Homo sapiens: one gene and its partners. The protein of the gene in region 1 purifies or fractionates together with the protein of each later gene. This does not show direct contact. Each region holds a gene or a part of one and is shown in the gene's direction. Other genes may lie near its edges. The genes, in order: CHCHD3, MTX2 and NDUFAF4.

Region 1 (3,658 bases):
AGAGGCAAGGACCAACCCCAGGAGATGCCCAAGGGACAGAGGTCAGTGTGGGACCTGCAGTTAGATGATGAGTCTGTCAGGGGTCCCCCAAACCATAGCAGAAGTTTCAGTCAGTAAGCAGGCAGTGGGACAGTAGCCACGCAAACAGTTAGTTCAGCTCACAATAAGGACGTCTTGTAAATGAGACAGCCCCACCTCAGACCTACATGCTTCCTGCTGATCTCTTTGGAGAGATCAGAAAGGAACCTGGCCACAGTGAGGAACTTGGGGTCAGGACCCAGTAAATGAGGCTAGATCCTAATGTGACAGCTCTCCAACTTAAGGCTAGTGCACCCCGTTGTCTCGTTTCTAAAATATCATTGACATCTCCAGTATTTGGTTGGCTTCCTAAGTCAAAGCCTCAAGATCAGTGCATATGGAGGAATTTGCCCTGGCACAATTTCTGTCCGCCTTCTGAAGGACAATTTCATCTCCCCGGTGAACTGTATTTATATTAGACCAGGATTCTGCTCCTAAGTCTGTGACATATTTTGAGTATGAAGGGGTCCTGAAAACATAGTAGTAGCTTTTGCTTAAAAATCAAGGTTCTTGAAAGAAAAACCTATTGCCAGAGCAAGCTGTATGTTATCATTGTTTTCAGATGAACTCTACATTAGATGCAAATGATTTAATAGACTTATAGGCTGTTGGAGCTAAAAGGACCCTAGAGATCATATAACCCAACCTCATTTTTTTCATGTGCAAAATTAGCTTCCAGAGAATTTAAATGATCTGTAGAAGGGCAGAACCCAGACCAAACAGCCCACTCTTAAATTCAAAACCAGGGTATTTTTCCTGTCGTGTCAGATCTCAGATGTGGGTGAGCATCAGAATCCCCTGAGGGGTTTGCTTAAAATGTACCCACCCAATCCCCATCCCTGGAGATTCTGATTCAGAAGGTCTGGGGTGAGGCCTGGGCATCTGAACTTTGACCAAATTTCCCAGGAGACTCTGTACCCAAAGTTTGAAAACCATTGCTCTTAGAGCCCATTGGCCTGAATTGCATTAAAGGTCTTTGACCTTTCAGAGGTCCTGCCAAGTCCTTGTTTTCCATCTTTTGGGAGATGGGGAGCTATCACTCCCTATAGGTCAAAGCTACCTGGCAGAGGTCTCATCAGACCAACCCTAGGAATGAATCTTTAGCCTTAAGAACAAATTGGAAGATGATGTGGGAATCAGATGGAAGCCTTGAAAAGAGATCCCCTTCCCCTCTTCTCTTGCTCCCATTGAAACAGTAGGTGACCCCAGTCCCCTGGCTAGCTCACAGCTGTGACCAGACCCTCCCTTGGTTCTACTGCTCCCAGTCACCCTGCTTCTCTCCCCGACCCACATCAGGGTCCCCCCGATGTACACGGTGGCCACTTTCAGAGAGCACGAAGATAATCAAGAAGGTTAACTTTCTGGGAAGCCCCCCAGGAGCATGTTTTTATTGTGTTCGAAAGCTGCTTTATCATTATCGCTTGATGACATTTATTAATTGCCCAGCTGGGATGCTGGTCACAGGGTGACTGACACGTGGGTATTTCATAATAGATTTCCCATTTTTTTGGTAGGGCAGCCCTTTGAATTTAGAGTCAGATCAAAGCAAACAAAATTCCAAACTTTAAATTTCCTATCCCAACCTCTTCCATCATAGGAATCCTTTTCTAAACCACTTTCTGAGAGTAATCGTTGCTTCGTGACATTTTCTCTTTTTTTAAATCTGAGTTTAATAGAAGAAATACTACCATGGTAATAGATTTTCATTTTTCTTAATAGGTATTTCTTTTCCCATGGTCATCCTTCAATTAGAACTGCAGTATGTTAGTGTTTTGTCTGTTATTGCAGCCAGCTGTATAAACAGTTAATTACTTGTAACTTAATTTGAATATTATACAGAGCATTTGTCATAGAAGATATAAAACAAGATCCAGGCAGAAAAAAGTTAACTTCTATTTCCTCCAAAGCAGGAGGAACAAAGAACAAACAGCTCTTGCTGCAGGGGAATAGACACATATTGAAAACAAAATAAGTGATCTAATCAGATTTCCAGGTAGTGAAGAACAGTACTTGGTGCACAGGCAAAACTCGCTTTGTGCTTCCCATAAATTCAATTTATAGATGACTTTTCCTTCCTGTCTTATGCACAGTCTTCTCATTCTGGCTTTTTCCTCATCGAAGCTCCAGTGTCTCCCACTCCCCACTTTTCCTGACCCTCCTTAGTAAAACTCGTGTCTTAAGACCAGGTCTGTGCCAGGACACATCTCCAGTTTCATTTTTCCTTGGTTAGGTAGACCTTCCTGCTTCTCTACCCAGCTTTATGAGGCCTGAAGTCTTGGTGAGGCGCTGGGTAAGTTCATCCAGAGACAAGCACCCTGAGTGGTATCTTAAAAAACAAACCGCTTTTCTTCTCTTCATGATGATTGGTTAGCAACCCAGGGTTGCCATCATTTCTCTTAAATTATCAACACAACCAGTAGCTGGCATGCTGCTATGATAGTCAACCCCTCCAAGAAAGCTGTGATTCAAAAATCAGTTGATGAGATTACTGCTTAACAGAAATATTTGAGGCAAGCGGTTAGGATGGTTAGTAAGGTTTTAATAAGCGGAAATGACACGCAATCTCAGGTCTCCAGGGGCGCTGTTCTTATTTGTGAGCTGCCGGTTGTTCTTCAGTGGCTGGAATGAGAAAAAGACTTGGGAAAAGAGCAGTGTTCATGCCTGAACCACTCTCTTCTTTTGGTGATTTACCCAGCTGTTTATAAAAGGAGTTTCTGCAGGCCCAGATACGTGAATGATGAGCAAAAGCAAGGAATTTCTTTCTCCACATTAAGATTAAGTGTTAGCAGTTCCTTAAATGAAGGAAGCAATTTTTTATAACTTGCAAAGCTTCTCCCTCATTCTTTAGGGAATTTCCTATGTTAATTTATGCAGTGTTAAATTTATGCAGCGTTGAAATTCAGCCCAACAGCAGTACTTACGGAACCAATACAGAGACAGTAGAACCTATAAGGTGAAAGCTGAATAACACAGACCCCACCAGACTACGGATCCCTCCAGCCAAAAGCCCTGAGTTCTGAGTTGGAGCAGGTTTTGTCGCATAGCTGGAATATAATAATAACCCAAAATGTTTGACAGATGAATTCATCTTTTTTAAAAATCCAGCCTGCCATTGTGTTTGTTAATTTCCCTGATAGAATTGAGATGGTTTTGTACCACCCCTGCCACCCTTTGGTAGCAAGTGAGTGCAGTTTGACAAAATGTTTATAGATCAGCCCTGGTGCTTTTCTGTGGTGGTCCCACATGTCTTCAAGGAGTCACCACAAATCAGCTGAACCACTGTGCTATCTTGGAGGATTAGAATTTTAATACATGTAACGGTATTTTGTGAATGTGGCTAAAGGGGTTATTAAAATGTTACTTCTTTTAGTGTCTTTATGTGAGACTGGCCTGCTCATCCTCAGACCAGCCAGGCCCCATCTTGTCTCTTTCTGAAAGAGAGCCTAACATTCTTAGCATGATATGATTTGGCTGAAAAATTACCCATCTATATTTGGTTGAGGTTGCAGAGAGAATAGTAAAAACAATCTCTAGACTCGTGAAAACACTCTTTAACTGTTGCTTTCCTTAAGTTGTGGCA
Region 2 (3,658 bases), on another chromosome or scaffold:
TTGAAATGCATTATTCTATTTTAGTTTTGTTATGCACACTGTCTTTAGAGGAGGCCAGGAGAATAGATCTAACTTACTTTTCTTCTCAGTTAAACTCATTGTCATTGTGTTAGTAACCAGAGTTTGGCATGTGACTCAGTGGAAATATCAAGATATCATTTTTCTTCATAAGGGCACAATTACATTTACACTTGTGATGAAAACTTCTAACTTAGAACAGTTCAAACACCAAAGCCTTGCTTTTGAGGAACTATTTAATTGATATTATGATGTAGAGTTTTGACATAATTTTCCTTTGCGTGATACTTAGATAAACATTTTCCCTAAAAATAAGATTAAAGATAGAAGAGATTTGATTTTTAATTTTATTCGATCATTTAATTAATACTAAAATGCAAATAAAGTACATTTAGAAAAAAGTAACTGGTATTTCACTTCCTTGTGCCAACATTTTTCTCATTCCTTTATCTGTAGCAGGAGTCATTACTTTGTGAGATACTATGTTGAATAGAGCTGTGGCCTAAGTCAGGTATTATACTGCAAGTCAGAGGGTCTGAATTCTATTCTTGGCTCTGACATATCTCTAAGTTACTCTAATTTCTCTATGTGTATGCCAGTCCTAAAATTAGAATTAACCCCCTACAATTAGAATTAATCCCCTAAAATTAGAATTAACTTTCCTTCTAGCTCAACTACTGGGGATGTTGGGAGGACTCGTGAAAGAAACCAAATACCGTTACTTGATGAGAGAAAAGGAAAAGGGTAGTTAAGGGAGATCTCACAGAAAGAATAATAATTGGGAAAAGAGGCCAAAAAGCAAGGGGCTTGATTTACAAAACTTGGGTGACAGCCCTAAAGATAAGTGATTAGGATGTAAAGAAAAGATAACGTAGATTATTTCTAGTACTATAAAGAGATGAAAAGTTAATGGGAAAGAACAATTAGGAAACACTCAGACAAAATTAATGCTTTTGAAAGCATTAATATAGATGATACTATGAAGGTATCAGAGAGAAATAAATGTGAAATAATGAATAAGCAAAGCAAAAAATATGAGTGCCAGAAAAATCTTAAATGGAAAATGTTAGGAAAATGTTGAATTTTACTGAGTGCCAGAAAAATCTTAAATGGAAAATGTTATGAAAACGTTGAATTTTACTGTTTTTGTTTTGATATTCAAATGAAAAAATAGTAGATAACCAACAGGAATGTGGAAAGAATAATAATGTAAGAAGGCATCAAATTTCTTAGGACTTTAAAAATATATTTGTCACCCTGGAATATTTTTCTAATAAAAAGTCTATAAAGATAAATGCAATAATATATGAAACATCTTAGAGCTCATAGGAGGGGAATTGCTATCTATATTTGAATTATAATCACAAACTATTTGGTAAGCAGAAGGGTAGAAAGTTGTGTTTTCTCTTCACGTGATATAGCAAGATAATTAAAATTGGAGGTATATGAAGATCTTGACTTGATTAAATAGTTCAGTAGAAATACTGGATAAAATATGTTACTTGTCTTTTTGTTAAGTCAGGTTTATTGATGTGTAATTTACATCTAGTAAAATTGGCACTTTTATGCGTGTAGTTCTATGAATTTTAACAAAGGCATACAGTTGTGTAACTGTCACCTATCAACTAAAATATTATTTGTACTTCTTAAAAAGACTTGTTGGAATCAGTAATTTATATATGTCAGAGTCAGTGTAAGGAGTTGCTCAAATTTGGAAAAATTACAAAAAATATGCTTTAAAGGTTAGTGTGTGTGGATATATACAGTCATGCCCTGTATGGCAACCTTTCAGTCTGTGATGGACCAAATATATGATGATGGTCCCTTGAGATTGTAATATATTTTTACTTACCTTTTCTGTGTTTAGATATGTTTAAATACACAAGTATTTGTGTACCATAAATACACATTATCATTGTGTTACAGTTGCCTACAGTATTCTGTTTGGCAATGTGCTGTATAGGTTTGTAGCCTATTAGCAATAGGGTGTACCATATACTCTAGGTGTATAGCACCATCTAGGTTTGTGTAAGTAGACTCTATGATGTTCACACAGTGAGAAAATTGCCAAACAGTGCATTTCTCAGAATGTATTCCTGTTAAGCAACACACAACTGTATGTGCTTTGGTTTAATCTGTTGAATTCTACTTCTGTTGATGTTCTAAAGTAACTTGCCACAAAGTTGCTGTCTTTATGTAAAATCAGATCAGTTTTTATATGCTCATGCCCATATATAATTCAGTACCTCTGGAGTTATGTGGATATATATTTGCAACAAACCACTTCAGGGGTACTTCTGGAGCACTCTCATTTGAGCATACATTGATAGTTGAACTCTTTCAGAGCCTTCATTTATTAATAAAGGGTGCCCATCTATACTACTGGAAGTTGCATCAGAGAATATATGCACCTTTTTTAGGCTCTAGTACAAGAAGTATAGGGTAGCTGGCACTAAACAAGGATTAGGAAAATAAGTTCTAAATTGGTAAGATAAGATGTACCTCTTAAGAAATATGTTTAAGGATGTGGAAGAATTGGTGTTTGTATTATTCTCACCAAGTGCCTCAGCTCAGCTCCCCATTTATCCACTCTACATCCTTGGTTTTTTGCAGGGATCTATTCATTATTGGTTCATTCCTGTGATGATAAGATTATGGTGCTGTTGAGTCTAAGGACCCTTGAGATTTTTTTTTTTAAAACTATACTGTTGGCTACCCATTTAAACATGGCCATAGATTGCACATTTGACTTTGATTAACACTTCATGAATGTCAAAAGAGTGGAAGGCTTTCAAAGAATGTAAGTTACTACTATTGAGAAAATTAAATATTCCACACATCTTAGGATGCTTTCTTTTTTAATTCATGTATTTATTCGGCAAGTGCTACTTCAGTTCCTTAGATACTGTGCTAAGAACTGGGAATATAAAGATATATACAGCATTGCCTTTGAAGAGCTTGGAGTGTAGTGAGGGAAACAGTTAAGTGAACACAGTTATAATATGGTATGAGAAGTGTGTCACCTTTTTATTGGTTCATTCAACACAAATTTATTGCACAATTCCTGCTTTGTGCAAGGAATTGTTCTAGGTATTGGGGTTACAGCAGGAACCAAGTAGGTGAGGTCCTTTCTCTACAGGACTTTCTGGTAGAGGAGATGCACAATAAGCAAAAAAAAAATTATATGGTATTAATTATCAAATGTAGAATTAAAAAAGGACCACATGATAAGGAGTGACTACATGTCCACTTTAATTTGAGTGGTCTGAGGAGACTTTAAGATGTGCCATTTAAACCTTATTCTAAAAAATAAGGAGCCAGTGTGAAGTCAGAGGAAGAGTATTTTAGGCAGCAGGAATAGTTATAGTCAAGGTTCCCTAATTGGCTTGAGTTTGTTACGTTCAAATGCAAGAAACAAGGCCAGTTTGGGTTGTATGCTATGAATGGTAGGATATGAGGCTAAAGAGGCAGGCAGAGGCCAGATTATCAAGGCTCTGTGTGCTTAGTGTAAGGAGTTTGGCATTTTAGTATAAGTAGAACAGAAATCCATTAGAATATTTTGTGCTTGGAGTTGGTATGATCTGCTGACATTAGTCATTCTGACCATGGTATGGAGAATGAGTAGAAGCAGTAAGACACT
Region 3 (3,197 bases), on another chromosome or scaffold:
ATAGAATTTGTGTTAATCCATTCTTGCACTGATGTAAAGAAATACATGAGACTGGGTAGTTTATAAAGAAAAGATGTTTAATTGGCTCACGATTCTGCAGGCCATACAGGAAGGATAGCAGCTTCTGCTTCTGGGGAGGCCTCAGGAAACTTATAATCATGGTGGAATGGGAAGCAGGCACGGCTTATATTGCCAGAGCAAGCAGAAGCGGGGTGTGGGGGAGGTGCTACACACTTTTAAACAACCATATCTGGTGAGAACTCTATCACGAGAATAGCACCAAAGAGGGAAATCCACTCCCATGATCTAGTCACTTTCCACCATGCCCTACGTCCAACTTTGGGGACTACAATTTGGTGACATGAGATTTGGGTGGGGACACAGATCCAAACCATATTAGTTGTTATTTGAAGAGGAATAGTGTAGATTTGAGAAGTATGAAAGTAGATGTCAAATCTTTTCTCTCATCCTAAAACCTTTTTTTTTTGATACTAGGTAAAAGCTGCTGAAACATGTCAAGAGCCGAAGGAATTCAGATTGCCGAAAGACCATCATTTTGATATGATAAATATTAAGAGCATTCCCAAAGGCAAAATTTCCATTGTAGAAGCATTGACACTTCTCAATAATCATAAGCTTTTCCCAGAAACCTGGACTGCTGAGAAAATAATGCAGGAATACCAGTTAGAACAGAAAGATGTGAATTCTCTTCTTAAATATTTTGTTACTTTTGAAGTCGAAATCTTCCCTCCTGAAGACAAGAAAGCAATACGATCAAAATGAAGAAAATCACAGAAATTTCCTATGTGTACTCCTCATCCCTCCTGCTGTATATTTTCTCATTTTTTGCGTAATAAATTATGTTAATTACCAAATATTTAATGCTCTCATTGTGAGGGCATACTCTTAATATTTATTGAGCTCCCTGACTTTTCAAGATTGCCATAGAATATCTTTTGTTTTATTTTAATTTGGTTTAGGCATATTTCATAAGTGCATGTCAGCATGACTGAGCACATCTGTACCTTTATTATGGTGAAAGAGTTAATTTGTTATTTTAGGCACATATACCAACTTTTAAATTGGTCATATTACCCCTTGGGAAATGTCCTGAATCCCTCAACTGAGTTTTACTTTCCAAGTTAGGTGTTTAGTTCATTCTTCTCATGCGATAGTGAAAGTAAAAGCTTTCCTGACCCTTAAGACTGACATTTTCTCGTTAGGGAAAGAGACTCGATAGCAGGGTAGACTAACAGTAGTTCCCAAATAAAGGCACACAGGAGAAAATGAATCAATAGAATCTAATTAAAATTACTACTCCAGGGAATAAGAAGTATTGAGGATTTATTTTATTTTGAATTGGTTTTAAGTATGGAATAATTGTCTTTACAGTTATAAAAAGTAATTAGTGGTGTTTACAAAATGTTGGGAATTTCTGCTTTGACAGATAGGTAAGTCCCATGGGAATTTCTGCTTTGACAAATAGTTAAGTCCCATGGCCTTCAGAGAGGCAGGAAGCAGAAACTTTCAAAAAAGTAACATTTCTCTGGATTTAATGTGGAAATAGAGAAAAATTTAAAGAATAATTAAAAAACCATGGTAGATGAAATTTGGTGATTACATATAGTTTCGGATGTTAATGCTAGTTGAGAGAAGAGAAAAAGATAGCAAGTAGAAGCAGAGAACAGGATCATTGGAAGGGACCTGAGAAATTGCCATTTCATCCATTTTAGCAAATTTAATTAGCATAGCATGTACCAGTACTAGGATCTTGAGTGAGTGTGTGAGTTTAGCTCTGCCTAATATATTACTACTTGGGGGATCTTTGGGAGACTATATCTTCTTGGAGATTGAGTTTCTTCTATAAAATAAGCATAATGCTACCCTAAATGTAAGGGTTATCATGAAGATAAATAATAAAGGACTACAAAGGACCAAGCAAATAGGAATTATTTTTTGCGGTGGAGAAACAAGTGCCTGGGGAGAATATATGACCGAAGATTCTGTAGTTTATGACTTAAACAGGCCCAGAATTTAGTTTTTCAAATCCTAGTAGTGTGTTTTTTCTGTCTTGCCAAAAAGCAGCACACCTCAAAGAAGGGAAAAGGTGTGAATTGTGGGTATATTAGGGTTATTAGTGCTTCCGAGGGAAGATAGGCATCACTACTTCCCAGAGATGCCCCTGGAAATGATATAGAGGATGTTGAAGAATTCAATGTGATGACGGAATGAGGCATTTGTAGTAATGCTGAGAACAGAAAAATGGACTAAGTGGAAAATTTGTAAGCATGACTTTGAATGTAGATTTGTTATGTGAACAAACTACCTAGTTTATTTTTAGTTCAATACAATAATTGTTTTAAGAAAACATGAAATAACTACTCAATATAAAATGCATTTTAAAACTGTAAATAAGTCAAAACTTTATTCTTTTTATCATAATGGTCACTAGCTGAGTCACAAATACTAGTACACTCTTCTGAGCCATCTTCTTTATTCATATCTACATTGTGTGGTTAGGCATCTGTTATGTGGTGTCACATGATAAAATAAAGAACTTCTTCCCATACCATTCATCAGTCCTATACTGCGTTTTATTATATACAGGAGAGCACTTGGTAGCAGTGATGTCAGAAAGTGCATGGAATTTAGATTCAGAAAACAGTTTAGATCTCAGGATCACCACTAGCCATGCCATCTAACATTTTAAAAGTAATTACTGTACTAGGGTCTGATTGAAGTGCTTTACGTGTATTAACTTGCTTAATATTTACCATAGGTACAAGGATAAGTAGCCATATTTTAGAAGCATAGAGAGCTTCAGTAACTTCAAAGATTACTTAGTAAGTGTTGAAGCCTGGATTTAGTCCTGTTAGGTTATTTTCAGAACCTTGTGCTTCTAACTGATACGCTATGTTGCCTTTGTAAGATTATGAGAATTAATGAGATGTCATGCAAAGTGCCTGAGGCATATGAGGACAGGACTACTCAATGCTCACCGTATATGAGAATCATCTGTAGAATTCTGGGAAAATACAGATGTCTGCTGTGAGAGGCTGGTGTAAGTCTGGGAGACGCCTGGGTTCATGGATTCTGGATCACGGGTGTTTAAAAAATATCTATGACCAGTGCCACCAGCATGTTCCAAATTGCTGATCACTTGTGCAGGTGAAATAGCATTCTCTGGTCTAAAGTTT

What was found.
Region 2: the proteins of CHCHD3 (region 1) and MTX2 purify together in Homo sapiens (affinity purification with mass spectrometry; 3 studies listed by BioGRID and IntAct, with this or other methods). This does not show direct contact.
Region 3: the proteins of CHCHD3 (region 1) and NDUFAF4 purify together in Homo sapiens (co-immunoprecipitation; one large-scale study listed by IntAct). This does not show direct contact.

The regions. Positions count from the first base shown.
Region 1 is NC_000007.14:132,788,476-132,792,133, reverse strand, and holds part of CHCHD3 (MICOS complex subunit MIC19), read left to right. Parts: intron 1-3,658. UniProt on the Homo sapiens protein: Component of the MICOS complex, a large protein complex of the mitochondrial inner membrane that plays crucial roles in the maintenance of crista junctions, inner membrane architecture, and formation of contact sites to the outer membrane.
Region 2 is NC_000002.12:176,331,858-176,335,515, forward strand, and holds part of MTX2 (metaxin-2), read left to right. Parts: intron 1-3,658. UniProt on the Homo sapiens protein: Involved in transport of proteins into the mitochondrion.
Region 3 is NC_000006.12:96,888,690-96,891,886, reverse strand, and holds the end of NDUFAF4 (NADH dehydrogenase [ubiquinone] 1 alpha subcomplex assembly factor 4), read left to right. Parts: intron 1-495; coding exon 496-783; 3' UTR 784-2,572; downstream 2,573-3,197. UniProt on the Homo sapiens protein: Involved in the assembly of mitochondrial NADH:ubiquinone oxidoreductase complex (complex I). May be involved in cell proliferation and survival of hormone-dependent tumor cells. May be a regulator of breast tumor cell invasion.